3 linked regions of the Homo sapiens genome follow. The protein of the gene in region 1 interacts with the protein of each later gene in a biochemical or structural test. Each region holds a gene or a part of one and is shown in the gene's direction. Other genes may lie near its edges. The genes, in order: NFIA, SMAD4 and ELK3.

What was found.
Region 2: the proteins of NFIA (region 1) and SMAD4 form a complex in vitro, tested with the Homo sapiens proteins (one study listed by BioGRID).
Region 3: the proteins of NFIA (region 1) and ELK3 form a complex in vitro, tested with the Homo sapiens proteins (one study listed by BioGRID).

What each region holds. Positions count from the first base shown.
Region 1 is NC_000001.11:61,080,854-61,084,608, forward strand, and holds the start of NFIA (nuclear factor 1 A-type), read left to right. Parts: upstream 1-1,707; 5' UTR 1,708-1,907; coding exon of another isoform or gene 1,908-1,938; coding exon 1,939-1,965; intron 1,966-3,755.
Region 2 is NC_000018.10:51,054,151-51,057,905, forward strand, and holds part of SMAD4 (mothers against decapentaplegic homolog 4), read left to right. Parts: intron 1-630; coding exon 631-843; intron 844-3,755. UniProt on the Homo sapiens protein: In muscle physiology, plays a central role in the balance between atrophy and hypertrophy. When recruited by MSTN, promotes atrophy response via phosphorylated SMAD2/4.
Region 3 is NC_000012.12:96,267,369-96,270,473, forward strand, and holds the end of ELK3 (ETS domain-containing protein Elk-3), read left to right. Parts: 3' UTR 1-2,456; downstream 2,457-3,105. UniProt on the Homo sapiens protein: May be a negative regulator of transcription, but can activate transcription when coexpressed with Ras, Src or Mos. Forms a ternary complex with the serum response factor and the ETS and SRF motifs of the Fos serum response element.

The sequences.
Region 1 (3,755 bases):
AGACAGATGCAGAATTATTTCAGAGGTTCTCTTTTGCTCTTTCTCCAGTACAGTATTTCCTGCCCCTTGCTTTGAAAAGAAGTCTGAATGAGAGTGGCCTTAACACATCACTCACCCTCACTTGTTAACACATCACTTACCCTCACTTTCCTACAGGAATGTCCCCTCTTTAGAGACTCTCTGGTTATGTCACCTCCACCGAAGGGCAGATTCCCCTGTGTGCCAGTGTCTTTCAACATGATACCTACCTCTTTCCTTTTGGAATTTTGAGAAGGGTTGTCAAATGCAGCATTTTGCAAACCATCATGAGGAAGAGAAGTAAAATAAGGGATGGGGGCTTAGAAGAGGCAGGTAGGCTTTCCCCCCTCCGAGAGAGGAGAGCCTAGAGAGAAAATATGAGGTTAAAAAAAAAAAACTGGAAAAGCAGGCTTACTGGCAACTTGCCAAACCCTAAAAACCACCCCCCTCTTTTCTGCCAAAACAATACTTTAGCAAACCTAAAATAATTGCAGGAAGCTCTTTTCCATTTTAAGAACTATTACCTGGGGGAGGGAAAAAAGGGATTCTTAAAAGGCACCCTTCCAGAGGTGTCCCAGAAACTGGGACGGTAATGATAGCCTATGTCCAGTTCTGGGCACGCGTTTGTGGATCAGAATATCTCCCTTCCCTAAGGGGACATCCCTTTCACATATTTTTTTCCTCCTAAAAAGTAAAAGATGTCACAGCTAAACCACTGTTGTTTCTGAACGTGATAGAACTTTTTCTATGGCGTCTGTGTTCAAACCCACTAGTTTCACAGTCCTGGGAGGGATAACGCTCATTAATCTCCGCCTTCTTTTCTCCAGACCCCCGCCCCCCAAATCCGGTGAATCTTCTGTGGGCACTGATTCCTCACCACCCCCGCTTCTGAATGCCACAGGACCGAAGCTGCACAAAGTTTGCAGGATTGTGTGCATAATTACCTCTGCCGACGAATCTATTCCCACAGAAAGCTTCGCTGGAGAGATTACAATGCTTTGAGCCTTACCGCATTTCAGTGGGGGAAAAAAAGTTACCTAGGAGGTCTGATTTTTCAAAGAAATTTGCATACATGCAAATGTGCCGCCCGGCCTCCTCCTCGGTTCTCTACGTGCCCACGCGGTGGCCCGGGGGGTGCGGGGCAACCTGGCAAAGTTGCCCAAGTCCTCCACCGAGGTCCGCGGAGGTCTGCAGCGGGGGTGGGGGGATGGGGACGAGGAAAAGTAGTTTTGTTTGCTTAAGCACATCCTGTGGCAGCCTATAGCTGCCCGGGAGTACAGACTGTAACTGCTCCTCACTGCGTTACCCAGTAATGCGCTGATCGGGGGAGGGGGCGGGGGGGCCGGGGAGCGAGCGGGAGAGCGAGCAAGCGAGCGAGCAAGGAGCGAGCCACGGAGAGAGCCGGGGAGCGAGCGAGCCAGCCTGCGAGCGCGAGCGGCCGCGGAGGCTCGGGACCCGGCTGGCCGCGCGGCGCCGCAGCCGCCCCCTCCCCCACACCCCCTCCCCCCCGCGGCGGCGGCGCGAGCGGGCGGCGGCTGTGCGGTGCGGTGCAGAGCGGAGGCGGAGGCGGGCGCGCGGGCAGCTCGCGGGCACCCGGCCGGGCCGGCGCGGGAGCGGGAAAGGGTGCGCTATGCCTTTAACACCCGCGTACAGTAGGCATGTATAGTGGAGTGTAGGGAAACTCTAGGCGGGGTTAAAGTTCAGCTCATGGAGCGGCAATAGCGCTGGCTGGCTGGCTGCAGTTGAGCCGACTTGGAAATGTGAACGCAAGAAGCAGGCTTGATTTTTTTTTCTCCCCCCTTCTCTCTCTCTCTCTCTCTCTCTCTTCCTCTCTCCCTCTTTCTCCTCTCTCACCCACACTCACGCACACCTCCAAACCGCACACCCAGACGCACACGCATACCCCAGCGCCCGGCAGTTATGTATTCTCCGCTCTGTCTCACCCAGGTAAGCCGCGGCGTGGATGCGGAGGGCTTGGGGGCCGGGGCGCCGGGGGCAGGGCTGGGGCTGGGTGGGGGGCACCGGGGCCGTCGCTCCGGCCGGGCCCAGGGCGTGCGTCTCGGTGTGTGTCTGTGTCTGCGCGTGTTTCTGTGTGTGTGCGCGCGTGTGCCCGCGGGTGGGGGGGGGGATCCCGCTTAAAGAAAGTAACTTTGTTTCCATGCGGGTGCATTCCTCTTGCACGGCCATTTGTGTGGGCACATGGCTAATGGCGCCCTCTTATTAATGCGTTAATTAATATCGGGGCGACGGACTGCGGAACAGCAGTGTTTTCGGACACCCCGCACGTGTTTCGGCGGGGTTGCAGTCCATGACACGCAGAAATCTGGCTCAGCGTTTCTGCTGCCGGGAGCAGGGATTCCGTAGTGCCGCAGCGCCCGGGGAGGGGGCCGCCGACGGAGCCCACCGCTCACCCCGCACGCTCGGGCCGGCTGCAGTCCTCGGGTGCGGGGAGACCTCGGGTGCCTGCGCCCAACGGCCCGCTCCCCGCAGCCTGCGCTGCCGCAGCCCCCCGCCGTCTTCCCGAACTCTTACTTTTGTTTATTGTTTGTCAGCCTTCGGGGTCCGGCCGCGGAAAGGACGCGGGCTCCCGTCCCGGCCCCGGCCCGGACAGCGCCCCTCGGACGCGGGCAGGCTGCGGCTAGCCCTCGGCTGAGCGGGGCTACGTGGACGCGCGTTCCCCCGCGCCGGCCGGGTGGAGCCTGCGTCCTCGCCGCGCGCCGGTGGCCCGTTGGCTCTCCCGGAGTGAAAGTTTCGGGGCCGAGACGAGCCCACGTTGTGCAGGGCGCCGAACGCCGGAGGCCGCGGGCCGCGGGCCGGGTAGCGCCGGGCAGAGTTGGGCTCCTAGCCGGGAGCCGGAGCGGCGGCCCGGGCCGGACACGGCTCCCCCCGCCGCCGCCGCCGCCACCACCACCACCGCCACCGCGCGACTCCGGCCGCTCCGCGCGCAGGACGGGGGCAACTTTTCCCCTCCGACTCAACTCAGAGCATGGGGCTCTTGCGCCCCACCGCCTCTCCTTTCCGTGCCCCCCTGTCCATTCCTCCCTTGTCTACCCACCCCCAGGCAAAATATTGCTACTTCGAGACTTCAAATCCGGTCCCCTTTGAATATGTTATTTGTTTTCCTTGACTAAAAGGCTTGAAGTCAAAGTGGTTTTGCGCTATTTTTTTTTTAAGCGTGAGATTTCATACTGCTTTGGTACATTAGGATCTGACCATTAATCACCTACATGAAGTTATATGCTTCACATAAAATGTTTATTCACCTCTCCCTTAAAAAACCTACCACTTCTTGCCTTCATTTAGTAGGAGATAACGGTTTAACCGGAATAGTTTCTGGAAGGCTAAAAAGTATCAGTAGTTTTCGCTCTCCTCTCTAGATTCTGGATTTATTTCCCACATGACATCCCTTCTTATTGCAATATCTAACAGTAATAATACCGGGTATTTGATCTCAGAAGACTCTTAAACGCATCTTTTATGTTGAAATGGTCTGTTTGGGATTTAGGCCTAGCATTAATAATGGATAGCAGTTACTTTTAGTTACTGTAAAAGTTTTTTTTTTTTTTCCTAACAAACTTCCAAAGTTCCTATTTTAGTAACTTGTGGAAGTATGGAATGAAACTTTTCCAACCACTTCTGGCAAGGTTCACAATTGCATATGGATAAGATGCAAAGTGTAAGATAATTTGAATGAATTACGGACTATAGTGAAAATGCTGAGATTCGAAGGCTGAAGT
Region 2 (3,755 bases), on another chromosome or scaffold:
AATACTCTTATTTGGGTTGGGTTTCTAGAGGGAAATTTCAGTTTGACTTTTCATTTATAATTTTTCCGTTTGGTTCTAAACCTATAGGGGACATTACATTCAGTACACTTCATTTTTAAAGAATATGTTGCTTAACAATAATTCTAGATCCTGGGATTGGATATCTATCAGATCCCACTCATATCTCCACAGTGTGAAATTAACAAAAAGATATAGTTAAATACTCAGTCTCTATTTAGACCGAATAATTGTTTTTCTCAGCTGGACACATTTTCCAGCCATTCGGTTTTTGCCTGCCTTATGTATTTAGGTGATTATTCTTCTAGGTTTATCAAGAAACTGAGGAGTACCTTTTTAGGATTGTTGCTGGAGGCTGTTGAAACATAGACTAGCTTCAAATTTGAGAGTCAGATTGATTGATAAAATATATCTCATGCTGTTACCGCTGAATAAATGACTTTTGCTGGTAAAGTAGTATGCTTTTAAAATAATATGAAAAAATTCTGAATTAAGGTTAGTAATTTACACTGTAATTGATTTTAGGTGTTATTATATTACTTGCTAATAAGATTTTTTTTTCTGGGAATAGAAGCTTATAAAAATTTAAAATATGTTTAATTTTCTATATAGCTCCATCAAGTATGATGGTGAAGGATGAATATGTGCATGACTTTGAGGGACAGCCATCGTTGTCCACTGAAGGACATTCAATTCAAACCATCCAGCATCCACCAAGTAATCGTGCATCGACAGAGACATACAGCACCCCAGCTCTGTTAGCCCCATCTGAGTCTAATGCTACCAGCACTGCCAACTTTCCCAACATTCCTGTGGCTTCCACAAGTGAGTTCTAGAATCAGATGTAGTCAGCAAGTTGAGTTTTCCTAATCATTGCTTATTTATGTGTAGTCACTTGGGGGGAAACTCCAAGTAAGTAAACATTAAAAGTAACTGTAGTATCTTTCATAGGTAAACAGGTATTAAACAGGTATGCACAATCACTTGGAATTTAAGTAATGGCTTTGATTATAATATTGATTTAAATTAATGATCTGATTTATACTTTACTATTACATGTAGCAGTAAGTAGCCTCTTAAGCTCCCAGATATATTTTGGAGAAATATTTAAATAATTAACAAGTAGTTTTGATCCAAGATGTTTATGAAGGTCTGTGTTAATGGAATTGCAACCTTTCTTTTAATGCGGTGTTCTTATTTTGGTTTTTCTGGGACAATATTACCTTATAGTAGTTGTCTGATTTTCTCACTGTGCAAAGGGATCTTGACAAATTTGTTATATATTGCTCAAGATAGACATTAATTAAGTCAATTTTGATATAAGCTAACTTCTATATCTCTTTTTAAAATATATGTGTAATTAAAAAAAAAAAGTGTTTCAGAAAGATCCTTCTTTTCTGCCATGTCATAGGAGGGAGAGGGGCTGCTAGGTTCAGGTTTTTGGGGGCATGATCATATGACCTGGTTCTGTTACTTATTTTCACAGTAACCAAAGGTTTGATAGTTTGCTGCTTGGCAAATGAAGTAGCTTTTTTTTCATTTTTTTTTTTTCAATTAATCATAGAGCATTGTCTTGGCATGTGTATGGTGTTAGTTGCATGCAGTTGCTAAAGGAATTTATGTAAACCCACATCAGAATAGATTTTTGACAGCTCTGGGCTAATACTGTGTTAGTTGCTACCGAAAGTACCATTATTGTATTTGCTTTACTATCAGATTAGATTCAACATAGAAATTTTGATCTTTGGAATAAATGGGGGACTGATTTCTGTAATTGTGAGTTTTCAAGTGAAGTATACCAGAATTTCCCCTTTAATTCATTACACCACTTCAAAGCAACATGTTTTTGGTTTGCTATCTAAGAGATGACAGTCTCACTATAGGCAGCATATTCTAAATGGGTCATATAGGTTAAGCACTTGAGAACCCAGTTCCTTAATCACTTGGTGCTTCTATTATCTGTCTACTTTTTATTTACCAAATTAGGAATATGGTTGACAAACAGTGGGTAGTGATAGAAAATAAAAGAAGGTACATTATAGCCACTTGAACGTAGATTAGTGCTAGAGCACAGCTACCTACTTCTGTTTATATTATCTGGAGATTGAATTTCTGTGCCTTTGTCAATGCTTACTAAAGTGACTTCATTTTGACTGTGTTGTTTCCTGAGGTTGAATCCTATTCAAAGATTAGAAAAAGTGATAGAAATGAAATGCAGCTAATTTTATCCTGGTATTTATTGGGTAGATTTTAATAATCGAATACCGTAAATACTGTAAGTTTTAGAACTTGTGTCAAAATGTTCCCTTATGTGGTGGCATGCGCCTGTAGTCCCAGCTGCTCCGGGGGCTGAGGCAGGAGAAATGGCGTGAACCCGGGAGGCGGAGCTTGCAGTGAGCAGAGAGCGAGTCACTGCACTCCAGCCTGGGCGACACAGCGAGACTCCATCTCCAAAAAAAAAAAAAAAAAAAAAAAAGAGGGTTCCCTTAGGTCTCAAAAAGTATATTGATGAAAAGAAGTTGAACTAAAATAGAAGATTTGAAAGGCTATTTTACGTGAGCTGATTTAGTCGTATTGTTTAACTTTATTTTACATACTTAGAATTGTATAAGGGAAGTATTCAGTATGGATAACTACAGTGAGTCACTTTACAATTTATGTTCTTTTGACACCTGAATATTTTAAGAATTTCCTTTTAAATACCTGTAAATTAAAATAATTTATCCTGTGTAGTTAATGACAATTTTTGTAAGTTAGCTAAGAGTATTGCCTGTAGAATTGTTAAAAATATGAACAAAACCATAATTAACCTTTAAAGATAACTTGCAGAATCTGGGGGATGAGTAGGAAGGGAGGTTGCTAAAATGTCATTTTTACAGATAAATAATTTGGGGAGTATTGAAATATTCTCTTTAGCTTTTGGTTTTGTAATTCTTAGCTTTAAGGAAATGTGATATGTAAAGAAAAGAAAAATATTCCTTTTCTTTGATACTTTGAGCAATGGTGACATGTTACTCTCTTCCATCTGATTATACTCCCATTTAGAAAAGAATGAGGTGATGCCAGTTATAAATAATTATAACTTTAGTGCTTTCCAAATAGGATTAACAGTCGAGTTAATTAATGCTCTTTAAGAAACCAAATTTCCACTTTAAAAAAAAAGCCTTAAAAATGTAGGACAGTAAGCAATATCATAGGATGGTTTTTGAATAGAATACAAGCCAAGAGAAGCTTGATTCTCTTGGTATATTACATACAGAGAGGGCAATTAATTTCTTGTACATCTGGGAATATGATGGTGTTCTTGAAAAGAAATGATTCTTGGTTTATAAAAGCTCTTGAAAAAATTTGAAAGTAGACTGATAGTTTTTTTGTTTGTTTTTAACCAGTAAATGGTATATTGATTGGACAGCAGAGCTAGATCTTTTTAACTTCCTCATCTTCACTATCACATCCTATTTAAAATAATTTTCTGCTCTGCTTTTCTCTGTCAAACCCTAGCATTCTGCCATTACTAGTATCAGTGCTGATAGTGATTAATTTTTCAGTTTTCAACATTTTCTTGAGCCTGGATTTTTGGGGTCCTAATCAGAAAGGTCCAGAGAGAGAGGTGGATGGAGTGGCCAGGATGAACTGACATACCTCTGAAGAAGTTAATATGATAGGCCAGACGTACAGTGGTGTTTTGCTGGCATTTGAAATATGTTTGTGAAGAAATAAGCCACTACAATTAGTTA
Region 3 (3,105 bases), on another chromosome or scaffold:
GAAAATCTGTTTGGCATTAAGTGAATTTTAATGTTTTTGTTTTTATATCCTTTTAGCTCTTAAGTGTTGAACACTGTTGACAGTGAAGAACTTTTCTTAATGGTTTTCAGTATAACTAATAAGGATGTGAAGCTTTTTTCTCTTTAGTTCTGAGTATGCTAAACTGTGTGCTTATATAGACTATAACCAGTTGTGCCTTCCTTCGCATTTAATGTAAATGAATGATTTATATATTTTTTAGTATTAAGAGGAAATGTTTGAAAGATGAAAATTAGTATCAAACAGCTCTCTAGTAGAATTTCATTATTTTTCACCAGTGGGCAATATGAAAGCATATATCACGTTTTGTTTTACTTTCAATTGTATAAGAATTGCCTTAGAACCTCTTTTGAACTGAAATTCAGTAAATGTCCAAGTAATGTTTTTATAATAAACTAAGCCATATTTAGACAATAAACATTGATAAAAGAAAATGTTCTAAAGTACATTTTCAAAAGAATGGACCTTGAAAGGCTAGCCTCCTTAGCTGTTTACAGTATCTTATCTTTTAGATGCCTCCCAGACAAAAATCTGAGATGGAAAAGCTACATCAAGTTCATGCTATTCCAGGCCCAAGAATATCTCCTAGGTTAGCATATTCTTATTTCAAAAAATTAGCCCTGGTTTTCTCAGTTTTCCATAGGGAATCCCGACCATCTGATATATTTACTGTGTCAGTATAAGTAAGTTGGGGTTCCCCTGGAACTATAATTAACATTTAAAAAATCTAATGCTTTAGAAGAAGCTCACAGAGTGGTGATGAACCCAAACAACAAAGAAACCATTTTTAACACTAGGTATCTTCATCAGTATAGGTAGGTGTTCACAATTTTTGATGGATCAAAAACTTGCTGTAATACAAATAGAGAGTGGAGGTACTAAAGGCCTTGCTTGTGGAAACTGAGAGAGGATACACTGCTTTATGTATTACTAAAGTTAGGGGAGAATGAAGGAAATCTGACAGATGAAAAATTCTACAGGAACCTCATCATCGTGGAACTGAACTGATGATAACTTGGAACACTCCAGTAAATTCTGTTGTGTAATGTAATTTGGAGCAGTGATAATACAGACATATTTTCTGTTCCATCAGAAAATCAGCAGGCACCAGTCCAAAGGTACCACACCTGTACATGAAGAAGGAAAGTTCTAATACAAGAAAACTGAAAAGCACCAAGCTTTAAATTCAAGATTAATTACAATCCTTAACTATAAGTGATGATAAAAACTAACTTGAAATGTGACTAAATAACTGATCCAAACTGGGCATTAAGTGGCAGGATTATGAGAAAGGATAAAAAAAGAGATTTGAGAAAACACATTTCTTGAATTTTCAGAAAAAAATCTAGACTATTGCTTTGACACTTAGAAATTCTGAGGTTTTTCAATTGGAATTGAGCATCTCTGTATGTGGGGATGTGGGCCCTTATCAAGGGATAAAAATCCAAACACTCTAACATGCCTCCTTGACTGTAAAGTAATGACACTGGTTCCAAAATTCACAAATAATAGACACTACTGTCCCCCCACCCCCACCCCATAGGCTAAGAATAATTCTGTACCAGAATAAAAGGAGCTGGTCCAGGGAACTGATATTTACTGAACATACAAAGTTAGTGCTAGAAGGGGCCTTTGAGAATGCTTCCCGCCACCTGTTTCCAGCTCAAGACAGGTGCACAGCAGAAGCTGGGAGTTGCCTATGGCTGCACAGCTCACTGAAGGTAGAACAATGATTGGTGCTCAGTCCAATTCTGTCTCCCCCATGCCTAGCTGTTAAGTAATTACTGGTTCAAAACTACGTGTTATTAGTAAAACAAACAAAACAGATAAAGACAGCATTTAAAACTGTGTTGTCAGATAAGAGAACACATCCAAAATGCATGATTCTTACAAACTAAAGGAAGTTAATGTGCAAAAATCTCAACCAAAACTACTATTTTTAGTATACTTGTTTACGTAAATGCTGATTGGAAATATTTAAATGACTATAGATCTGATTCTTTCTTTTCCTTTGGAAACTGGGATTAATGTATGCTCTAGATCCATTTATTAGAAATGCAAAAATACTACAATTTTTTGATGGATGAAAATACTCCTGTAACACAAACAGAGAACTGGAGGAACTGAAGAATAACTCACTCATATAGCTCTGCCTCATTCTGTGTGTGTGTGCATGTGTGTGTTAGCAGAGGTATTTTACTCAGAAAATAGGTTTCAAAGAACATTAATGACTTTCTTTTCCCTTTTATGTCTGCTTAATCAGTGTTAAACTGCTATGGGAAAAGTTTTATAGAACTATATAACCTGAATGTTGGTCTCTTTGTACACATCTTTTCTATGACTGCAAATCTTCACTTTATGTATCATTTTTACTGTCATATTATTTTTGTTCAATAAAAACTTTGTGATAAAAGGTGTTTAGAGGTAACTGGATTGGCTTACTTCCATTTGCTTGGGGTGACCCAAACCACTTTTCCATATGGATACAAGTTGGAAAATGAGTCTTGTCACCTACCCTTAAAGACAGCACATCCAAAAAAAAAGTGCTTTACATACACATATTTTAAGAAATAAATGTAATTATTGAGGCTGACTTGTGGGAGAATGGAATGGATTGAAAAGCAGACCCCTGATCTTATTTAAGTTCTATCAACTGCTCTGTATTGAGGAGGAGGAGGAAGTGAGAAGGTAGGGGAAAATCAAATCTACCATTTATTCTTTTAGCCATTTTGTTGATTCAGGGGAATGTGAACTGCTAGGCTTGGTGATAAAGGTTATTATTTCTCTTGGTCTCAATACCAGGCTGACCTGGCTCTGGTTTTCATGGGTGATTCAAAGCAGTCTCCACTCAGGGTTTGATATAGGGAGACTGGTGTGAGGGGAGGGGAGGGGATGCAGGGAGAAAGCAGATTAATGCAGTCCCTAAACAACACATTCAGTATCACTAGCGTGCCAAAAGGCCACAGATAACTCACAGCTACATATAGTGTAACACAGGTGGCGGTAGGAAATCATTTGCTTCCTGAAGAAACATTTAAAGATCAACTATGTTCCAGGTGCCATTTT